2 separate regions of the Homo sapiens genome follow, and region 2 is linked to region 1. Evidence: fine-mapped expression QTL. Tissue or cell type: whole blood. Region 1 holds a variant in brackets; the other region holds the start of a gene. All regions are shown on one strand. Distances are between the middles of the regions.

Region 1 (5,196 bases):
GCCAACAAGCTGCGGGCACGGACCCGGGACGCCCTGGGCCCCAAGGTGAGGAGTGGCAGGGGCATTGCTCTCTGTGCAGGGGGACTGTGGGGGCTGACAGGTAGTACTGCTCACTCAGCTATCCCTTTCTCCTCAGCACAAGGAGTGACGGCCTGACCCCCTGGGCTCTAAAGAGGAATGTCTGCTGTTGCACATCTGGCTGAGGCCACCTGCCCCGATCCTGCCATCTCTGCATCGCCCCCTGCTGCCTTCAGCCTTCCCTGGGCCCTGAATAAACACCACAGCCAGTTTCCTTCTCATTCTTTTCTTTGGGGTTCAGGAGGAAAAACACAGTCCTAGGGACAAAAGCCAGGTCCACAGCAGTCATTTTTAAAATAAAGTTATTTAATAGTCTCCATTTAATTGGTTTATTTGCTGTTAATAAATTGGCAACACAAGGAAGGGCCCCATGTCCAGGCTCAGGCAGGAGCGGCTGCCTCAGGCAGAGGCAGGGCAGGCACAGCTGCCCCGTGCCCCAAGGGATGGAGGGAAAGGCCCCTCACTTCTGGGAGAACCCCCTTGGATGAACACAGCGGCCAATGAGCAAACAGAACCAGAGGAGCTACAGGAAAATGAGGCAGAGGGGCAGGCTTGGGGGAAGGCAGCATTCTCTGGTACCCACCACCCCTGCCCAGGGCTCAGAAGCCTTTGCCTGGGTCCAAAGGCCAGGGACAAGGGAGGCTTGGCTCACAGATGGGGGGTGGGGGTCACCCATATCTTCCTCCCCACTCTGGGACTGACTGACAGCCAAGAAACCGGCAGGAGCTCACACAGAGCTAATGCTAAATGTCCTCTTACCTCTGGGTGGCCCTGGGCCCCAGGGTTCTGAAGGAAAGGTGGGCATGGTACCCTGTCCTCATTATGGGGACTGAGGCTCTCCATGACCTAGGGCCCTCAGACCCAGGGGGACCAAGGGCTTCTAGGACTTCCCTCCCACCAAGCCTGTACCCAAAGACCTGGGGCAGGCAGAGAGCAGCAGGGAGGAACGGGAACAGGGCAGGGCGTGTGGCATCGTACCCACGCTCACCCACACTGGCCCAGCAGCCTCCCGAGGCCTGGCCCAAGGTCACTCCTCAGTGAAGTCCCTGTCTATGTCCATGTAGGGCTCCTCAATGTAGCTAACGAGAGCAGAGGGTGACTGCCGGTCCGGGTTCAACAGGATGGACACTGTCTCCTTCCAGTATGAGAAGCTGATGCAGGAGCTCTGGGCAAAGAGGGAGGGGCTGGGGGGCGCCTGGAGGACCCAGGTCAAGCCCAGCACCGGGACACCCCTCTGAGAGGCCCTGGGTCCGCGGCCCACCCATCACCCCCTTGAGGGTGGGGCACTCACGTTCTCTAGGCAGGTGCTGTCCTTGTCCTTGTGCAGGTAGTGCTGCTGCCAGAAGCGCAGCAGGTTGTGGAAGTTGTTGAGCAGGAAGCCGGGGTACTTCTTGCTGTGCTCCATCCGCTGCAGCAGCCGCAGGTACAGGGGCAGCCGCTCTTTCCGTCGGGCCAGCATCAGGATCACCAGGCTGGTGTTGAGGCAGCTGACGTTCTCCTGCAAGGCCACAGGCCCACAGGGTCAGGGGCTGGTGGGAGCCCCAGTGGCCCCTGGTGAACCTGGGTAGCCATCAGGCAGGGAGGAGAGTGGCCCCAGGCCTCGGGCCACCCACAGAGCTCTCCCTGCACAGAGGTGAGATAGGACTGGGGGAAGGGGGCCCCCAGCAGCCCCAGTTTCCTGACTGAGCACCTTCCTCTTCCCCACGCCCACCTCCCACCCCACCTGAGGCAACAACACCTGTCCCTGTCCAGACCTGGGCTCAAGCATCACTCCTTCCGGAAGGTCCGTCCCAGGCAGGGCTGGGTGCGTGTGTTGGGGCGGTTATCCCGCTTCAGAAGTGCCATTCAGCACTAGCCTGCGCGCCTCGGTGGGGAAAGAGTTCTGCCCCACTCACCATGCACTCCCACCTGGTGCTTCACCTCAGAACGGAACCAAAGACCACCTCTGAGAGGTGCTAAGATCACCCTCACTCTAGAAAAGAGGGGCAGGAGGCTCAGAGAAGGGAAGGCTGCATGACTATTCAGTGAGGGAGTTGGGCAGCCTCAGGTCCGATTCCAAAGCCCAGCAGGGCAGAAGGTGTGAGGGACGTGGACATGGGGGAGGCGGGGAGAGCACTGGCCTGCAAGTCAGCCTGTGACCTGAGGGCACTTGCGAGCCCTCCTTCCTTAGGCCCTGTCTGTACAATGGGACACTGATTCC[T/C]CCTGAGCACAGTCCTCAGAAGAGCTGGGTCTCCAGAGACGCACTTCTGGAGTGGGGGACAGAAACCTGCTGGGCACCAGGACAAAGGAAGTGGTTTCCAATCGACCTTCCCTGCTGTGTGTCTGCCGGGGCCTCTCACCTGGGTCAGCGTCTGCACGTGGATGATGTTGATGAGGCGGAAGAGGAAGGACATCTGCGTGGGCACCTGGGATATGTAGGCGAGCAGGCGGCATTCAGACAGTACCTCGGCAACTGTGGAGGGAGGCAGGGGTGCAGCAGGTCAGGCTTAGGCCCAGTGGCTGGGTCGCCCAGGCCTTTCGTGGAGCCCCGCTTGGGTCCTGACTCTGAAGCTAGGAGCTCATCATCAAAACAGCTTCAACGAAAGCTGACTGTGGCAGAAAGAAGGACCTCCAGCTGTCCTGCTACCAGGCAAAGCCATGTTCTCAGAGTGCCCAGGAGCACCCCACCTCATCCTCCAGAACCAAGCTCAGGGCAGCTCTCCCTCAGCCCTCCCCAGACTGGCTCCAGACCCGTGCCCTCCATATCACACACAGAAGAGTTCCCTCCACAGGAAGATGGATCCATGACGCTGCATTAAGAAAAACAACGCAAAAGTTCCACTCCTTCTGCAGAGGTCCTAGCGCAACTGGTTTTCCACACCAGCTCTCAGGTGAGTCCGGCCCAGTGCTGAGACCACAAGGCACAGGTTCTGCTCCGTCCACTAGTGTCGGAGCAACTGCTTCCCGCACAACTGGGAGGCAGGGCAATAACCGAAGGTACCAAAATCTGTGTGGCTGTTCCCCTGAAACAGACCCTCTGGGGCAGAAAAAGGAAGCAAACGGCTAAATTACCAACAACCGGGATACTTCTTGCTATCAATGACAGTGACCGTGACAAGGAACAAGTGCCTGACTTTTTGGGGGTGTGGGGGGGTCACAAACCCTCAGGAGAATCTGCTGGATGCCACAAGCCCTCTCCTAGGAAAAAAAGGAAACGCGTGCGCATACACATGGAAGTGCGTTAGCAAGTCCAGGAGGGTTCAGATGCCTGCTGCACCACAGGGCACCTGCGATGCCACGCACAGCACACTGAGGACGAGGGGGCCAACTCATCGTGCCAGGCAATACCAGCCCAGAAGAGGAAGGTCTTTTTCTGGTTTTCTTTGCATCTTGCTAGCAACAATGGATTTTCACCTTATTAAAGTGTTGAACAAGGCAGCAAAGCCAATTGCCCTGGAAGCCGCCACCTTGAGGCCGGCCACGTGGGCATCTGGTGCAGCTCCCTCAGTCATTCTTGTCTCCCTGCTGGAGACAGGGTGTCTGATGCCAGCATTCTTACCCTGCATGACTTGCCTTGACAGCCTGCCTTTCATGTACCTTTCATATCCACCTGGTTTTCAAATCGGTCCAGGGACAGAGTGACACAGCGCACCAGCATGTTGGAGTCCACCAGGGAGCTGTTGATCTGCTTCAGGAATACCTGGAACTATACAGAAACCAAGCTCACAGCAGGCAGTGGGCTGCTGGCCAGGTATGGCCATGGCCCGGGGGGATAGTCACTACAAGGGGCATCAGCGACCTCTACCAGCCCCACTGCTTCAGATAGGAAGACAGAGGCTCAGATAAGCTGAGGGACCTCCCCTCACCACCCAGGTACTAAGAGGCACTCCCCGGAATTCAGCACAGATCCGACACTCTCTCCAGTGGTTTTACGCTCAAGGGTGCTGGATTCCTTTAATTTTTACTTTTAATTTTACTTCAGCTAGCCTGAGCTGGGTTTCTGTCACACACACTCGGTGAGCCTAACACACCAGGCCCAGTCCCTCCCTACAGCGGCTCCCACCGTGGCACCCACCATGCTGCGTCACGGCAGGCGCACAAGCCACCCATTCCCACCCTCACTCCCTACCCACAAGCAGCCCCGGTTTTCATCCCTGCATTCCCAGGGTCTAGCACAAAGCCAGACAGAGCAGGTTCCAATGAATGTTTGCCAAAGACTGCCCAGACTCCCCCGTCGTCTCTAACGTAAAACCTGTGCCTAAAGCCTGGCAGACCAGGACTCCAGGTGAACTTCTGGACAACCCAGCACACTCCACAGAGCCCTGGGTTAACTTTACCTTTGCATCGGTGTTGATATATTTATTGAATCTCTTGAATGCATCAACGTTGAACTTCATCAGCTCCCCCAGGAGGTCAAAGTAACTCTGGAGCACATCCCTTGACTTACACTCGCTGTCCACAATGCAGTAAAGGATGTGCTGGGTGAGGAGGGACAGGGTGAAGGTGTCAACGTGGCTGCCCCCACCAGGGCCTGGCATGGAGCTCAGACCATGCATTGGCTTTGAGCAAGCATCCTGGGGATGGAACTGGCAACACTGTCTAGATTCTTGTCTGAGGATGCTGGTGGCTCCAAGGACAGGACCAGGCCTGACAGACCTCACCAGGAGGTGGAGCAGACTGGGAATGCAGCACAATCTCTCCCCTGCCCAGGGCGTACAGCTGAAGCCTGTGACCTGCTCTGTGGTCACCAAGATGGCCGGGGTGCTCAGCTCCTAGGTGAGGGGAGCTGTCATCACCAGGTCTAAAACACAGGCCACTGCCTAAGCACTGAGGTCATTCAAGTAAATGAAGGACAGAATTTAAAAGCAAAGGACACATTTTGACCCCATGGTTTGTCTTTGTGTTTATGAACGAAATTGTTTAAATAGAGTTTACACCAAAATACTGAGTTTTCATCAAGAGAATAAAGCCAATTTACTCCTTTATAAAGTTTTCTACATTTTCTTGAAGTTACATTGATTTGGATCAATTCTTTTCCACATGGATTTTATAATTCGTGGGTCAGTTTCTTGTCCATATGAAAAAATCTGAAAGACCAATTATAACTTTGGCCATTCTGCTCTAAGTTTTACTTTTTCT
Region 2 (5,121 bases), 88 kb after region 1:
TTAATGGGGTGTGGTGGCACACGCCTGTAGTCCCAGCTACTAGGGAGGCTAAGGTGGGAGGATCACTTGAGCCCAGGAAGTTGAGCTTGCCACTGCACTCCAGCCTGGGTGACAGAGCAAGATTCTGTCTCAAAAAAAAAAAAGGGTAAGCAAATAACTTATTCTGCAGGATGGGAGAGAGGAGCGGAAGGGCACAGCATGGAATAAATTAAAAAAAAAAAAAACTAAGAAAAGAAATATTTGAAAGATGAAGGTCCCCATTTTATCCTCACTATAGCTCCAGGCAGGGGGTCTCTACTTCAACTTCTGAAATAGCTCCCACACCTATATACAACCATCAGTTACCACAATAACCTGCCTTGCTTTTGTGGCTCCAGAATATTCCAGCAGCCTTGTATCTGGTGAGCTTTTTTTTTTTTTTTTTGAGATGAAGTCTCACTATGTCACCCAGGCTGGAGTGCAGTGGCGTGATCTCAGCTCACAACCTCCACCTCCCAGGTTCAAGCAATTCTCCTGCCTCAGCCTCCAGAGTAGCTGGGATTACAGGTGCTTACCACCACGCCCGGCTAATTTTTGTATTTTTAGTAGAGACGGGGCTTCGCCATGTTGGCCAGGCTGGTCTCAAACTCCTGACCTCAGATGATCCACCCGCCTCGACCTCCCAAAGCACTGGGATTACAGGAATGAGCCACTGTGCCCAGCCTCTGGTGGGCTTTTCTAGGCTCCTCCCATTCTAAGTCATTCAGCACTGGAAACAAATTAAGTTGCCTAAATTGCCTCATTTATCATGCTAAAGAACTTCTGTGGCTCCCTATTATTCTCAGAACACTGATTATCAGGATGGGTGTTTAGGAACATATCATCTAACCTCTCTGAGCCTCAGTTTCCTCATCCATATTAAGAAATGAGTCTTGAAGCATAACTCAAAAGCTTGAGGATTAAAGATAACATATGCCTTGTACCGTACTTTTTCTAAAGGTTATGTGCTCACTAAAAGTTAGTCCTCTTTCTGCCTGTCTCTACACACCCAGCTCGGTAAGGTATCTTAGCTTAAGAAGGAAAGAGCAAGTATTTCTAGGATTTTTTTTTTTTTTTGAGACAGGGTCTCACTCTGTCAATCTCCGCCTCCCAGGCTCAGGTAATCCTCCCACCTCAGCCTCCCCACAGGCACACACCACCACCATGCCCGGCTAAATTTTTGGAGACACAGGATTTTGCCGTGTTGCCTGGGCTGGTCTCGAATTCCTGGATTCAAGCGATCTGCCTGCCTCGGCCTCCCAAAGTGCTGGGATTACAGGGTCTTAAGTCAGGTCTTAAGAACACAAGGGGGAAAAAGGCTGCTCATCTATGGTTGTGTGATGGCCAGGAAAACATTTCTCACTCACAACTGCTCCTTTCGTCCACAGTCCTCCATACACACAGACCCCCTAGCCTTTATTTTATTCTATCCTTTTCGTCATTTGAGGAAGTGATATTCAAATTAAATTTAAATAAAGTTACACTGTGAAAAGTCTCACTCCCATTTTCTCCCCCTTTAGCCCAATTCCCACCTCACTCCCACCAACCACTTTATCAGTTTCTTGAGTATCCTTCAAACTTTTTATGAAAAAGCTGTCTTTAAATAAAGCTAATGTTTTACAGGTGTTAGCAAGGTTCGGGGTGGGGGAGGGTGGAAGAAGTAGTGGACTAGGTCCTATTCAACCTGGTTTACCCTAAAGCAGTGTCCTTCGCTCACTCAAAAATAACAATAATCATATGTTGGGCACCTGTTATAAGTCAGATGCTTAATATTAACTACCTTCAGCCCTTAGTATGCACCAGAAATGCACTAATGCTTTACACAATTGCCCCCTTTGATCTCCACAACAATCTTAAAAGGTAGGTTACTAATTCTCATCTTCATCTTACAAGTGAGGAAACTGAGGCACAGAAAGGTCACCTGCCCAAGCAAGAGAGAGGAGCAGGGCTTTGAACCCAGGCCTGACTCCAGAGTCCCTCTTAACCGTGACGCTCTACACTAGCAAACCAGATATAGTCTCTGCACCCGCTGGAACTCAGCCTAATGTGGGAGACGGGCGAGAAAAAGGCAGACAACAAAGAAATACGAAATTATAGACTAAGAAAGTAATGTAAACGAAACGAATTCGCGGCTGTGACAGAATAACAATGGGGACCTACTTTAGAAAGGGGAAGGAAAGAGTGTCAAGGAAAGGCCTGAGAAAATGACATTTATGAAATGCTCGGGAACCATTTGGGGGCTGCAATGATGACCCCCTCCCCCACGCCCAATACACGGGATAAACTCGAGGCCCACAGAGGCTAAAACAAACACGACAGGGTCCCCCAGACGTGTAGACGTGGCGCAAAGAAGGGAGGATCCAGAAACTGGGCCCAGGGTTCGTACACGCCATCAGTGTCCACAGCAGCCCAGCCCCGCTCGGCCCCTGACAAGGGACATCAAGCCAGCTGCTTCCCACGGCCCCGCTGCAGCTGAGAGCGTCCGGGCAGCTCACAGGGAGGCCTTCCGGCCAGCCAAAAGGGCTTTGGCCCGTCCAGCGGCGGCCTGGAAAGGCCTCTTCCCCGGCCCCCCGCCAGCTCCCGCCTGGTCCGCCCCGCCCCGCCCCTCCTGGTCCAGCCTCGTACCTGCACCGCCCGGACCAGGCCCCGGCCGGTCAGCTGGCCCTGCCGCAGCTGCAGCAGAATGTTACCAGGCCGCGGCCGGCCGCCCCATCCGCCCCAAGCCGCCACTGTGGCTGCCGACCGTCTCCCTCGGCCGGCTCCAGACCCAGCCGCTACCGGCGCCGCCGCCATGTCTCCTCGTCGGACAAACAGGAAGCAAGCGGCCTCGGGGCCGCGGAGATTTCTACGGGGCGGCGGAGGGGTCGCCGCAGCGCCCCCAGTGGGCCGTCGGCGGAGGCGCAAGCCGCGTGGCAGGGACCGTGTGCGGCGTGGAGGCTACTGGGAATTGTAGTCCTGCGCGGCAGCGGGGTAGGTGGGAAAAGAGATGTGGCCTTTCCTGCACTGCCGGTTTCTCTGGCCCCCGGGCCCAGCATTTCGGCGAAATCTCCCAAGGTCCACATTCTCCCATTTCTCTCGCCGATTTGGGCAGGATGCAGGCAGCTGGCCAAGAAATGATCCTGGGCTTCAGGTCAGGAGTCAGGCCCTCGAGTCCGCTTCCTGCCTGCTTCTCTCTACACGTGACTCACCGCGGACATCGACCAAGTCATCGCGCTCTGCCACTGCGCCTGTGTCCTCGTCAGGTCACTCCATCTATAGATTCTGGGAGCCTGATCAATCGTAGTTCCTGGGGCTTTCTCTGCGCCCGACACCAAACCATGTCTAGGGGAAAGGGAGGGTGTCTGGGATACAGTGGTGAGCAGAACGGCCTGGGATCCTTTATCACGAAATGCAGGTTACAGGGGAAGACAGCAGATCCATACACAAAGAAACGCAGTCTCAAACTGGATAAGTTGTGTAACTGGGTAGGTTGTTGTGAAATTAAATAATGGAAGGGAAAGGGATTAGTAAATTGTGACATCATATTCTCTGTCAGATGAAAACCCTGTCCTAATTTCTATCCACCAGATAGCATGTTGTCTCTAATACTCATTTTTTCAGCTAACTTCTGTGGCAGGATGGCACTGACTCCCCCCACCCAACACACACACACTTTTTCCCTTCCTAGCAGGGGGCCTGTAATAAAAATGAAAGAGGAGAGCTAAGTGTGATGTAACAGGGAATGGTGAAGATTGTGACTCATAACTAAGATGACTGTAACTTACTGCTCAAACCAGAACACTTTAAAGAATGAAAAGACACAATAAATAATTACACCGGGACGGTAGGCATAAAAGTGACTCTCCCAGGTGAACTGGCACTATGGTTACCATCCTCACACCCCATCTAAAAGGAGTAGACTCACCATCCATCTTCATAGAACTAGAAAAAAGAATCCTAAAAATCATATGGAACCAAAAAAGAGCCTGCATGTCCAAAGCAAGACTAAGCAAAAAGAATAAATCTGGAGGCATCACATTACCTGACTTCAATCTATACAATAAGGCCATAGTCACCCAAACAGCATGGTACTGGTATAAAAATAGGCACATAGACCAATGGAACAGAATAGAGAACACAGTATAAAACCAAATACTTATAGCCAACTGATCTTCGATAAAGCAAACAAAAACATAAAGTGGGGAAAGGACACCCTATTCAACAGCTGGTGATAACTGGCAAGCCACATGCAGAAGAATGAAACTGGATCCTCATCTCTCACATTATACAAAAATAAACTCAGCCGGGTGCAGTGGCTCACACCTGTAATCCCAGTGGCTCACACCTGTAATCCCAGCACTTTGGGAGGCCGAGGTAGTCAGATCATGAGGTCAGGAGTTCGAGACCAGCCTGGCCAACATGGTGAAACCCCATCTCTACTAAAAATGCAAAAATTAGCTGGGCGTGGTGGCATGCACCTGTAGTCCCAGCTACTTGGGAGGCTGAGGCAGGAGAATCACTTGAACCCTGGAGACAGAGGTCACAGTGAGCCGAGATCACGCCACTGCACTCCAGTTTGATGACAGGATGAGACTCCATCTCAGAAAAAAAAAAAAAAATAGCCAAAGAAGTTACAGTCAGGAGATATTTTGTTCCCTATAGAAACTGAATATAACATCTTAAAATTTGTCCCTGAGTGTTGTTTCTTAGAAACTCGAACCCCCACCAAATGGATCTGCTGATAGGCAAACTCAGATAAGGGAGAGCTGAGAACTAAACTTTGACTTCTATTTTTTGTTATAAATTTCTTCCTAGGGGGCCTGGAGGAGGACACGACCATAAGTCAGAGCTAACATTCTTTTCTGCAGATCCCAAATTTTTAGACAAAGCTTTACCTCCTTAACCAATTACAAGTCAGAAAATCTTTGAATCCACTTGTGGGCCCCTGGTTGGAGATGTCCTGTCTTTTTAGGTGGAACCAATATACAGCCCCTATGTATTGATTTATGACTTCGCCTGTGGCCTCTGCCCTCCTGCCATTAAAAACCTGTAAGCCGGCTGGGCGCGGTGGCTCACACCTATAATCCCAGCACTTTGGGTGGCCGAGGCAGGTGGATCACCTGA

What was found. PIP is the estimated chance that this variant, and not a neighbour inherited with it, causes the effect.
Region 2: it holds the start of TRPC4AP, and the variant in region 1 is fine-mapped to the expression of TRPC4AP in whole blood (GTEx, PIP above 0.99). The same link has a PIP of 0.9 or more in tibial nerve.

Annotation. Positions count from the first base shown.
Region 1 is chr20:35,002,041-35,007,236 of GRCh38, forward strand. MYH7B (myosin heavy chain 7B) reads left to right here. Exons shown (of 45, transcript NM_020884.7): 44 at 1-45; 45 at 137-397. The coding sequence ends at 148. TRPC4AP (transient receptor potential cation channel subfamily C member 4 associated protein) reads right to left here. Exons shown (of 19, transcript NM_015638.3): 15 at 4,395-4,535; 16 at 3,655-3,763; 17 at 2,418-2,530; 18 at 1,370-1,576; 19 at 364-1,243. The coding sequence ends at 1,106. Among named protein-coding and RNA genes, the nearest start is that of MIR499B, 14 kb to the left of the region's middle. The variant T/C (reference allele first, on the strand shown) is at 2,279.
Region 2 is chr20:35,089,971-35,095,091 of GRCh38, forward strand. TRPC4AP (transient receptor potential cation channel subfamily C member 4 associated protein) reads right to left here and starts at 2,837. Exons shown (of 19, transcript NM_015638.3): 1 at 2,644-2,837. The coding sequence starts at 2,811. RefSeq lists an enhancer at 523-1,082 and a silencer at 2,609-2,738.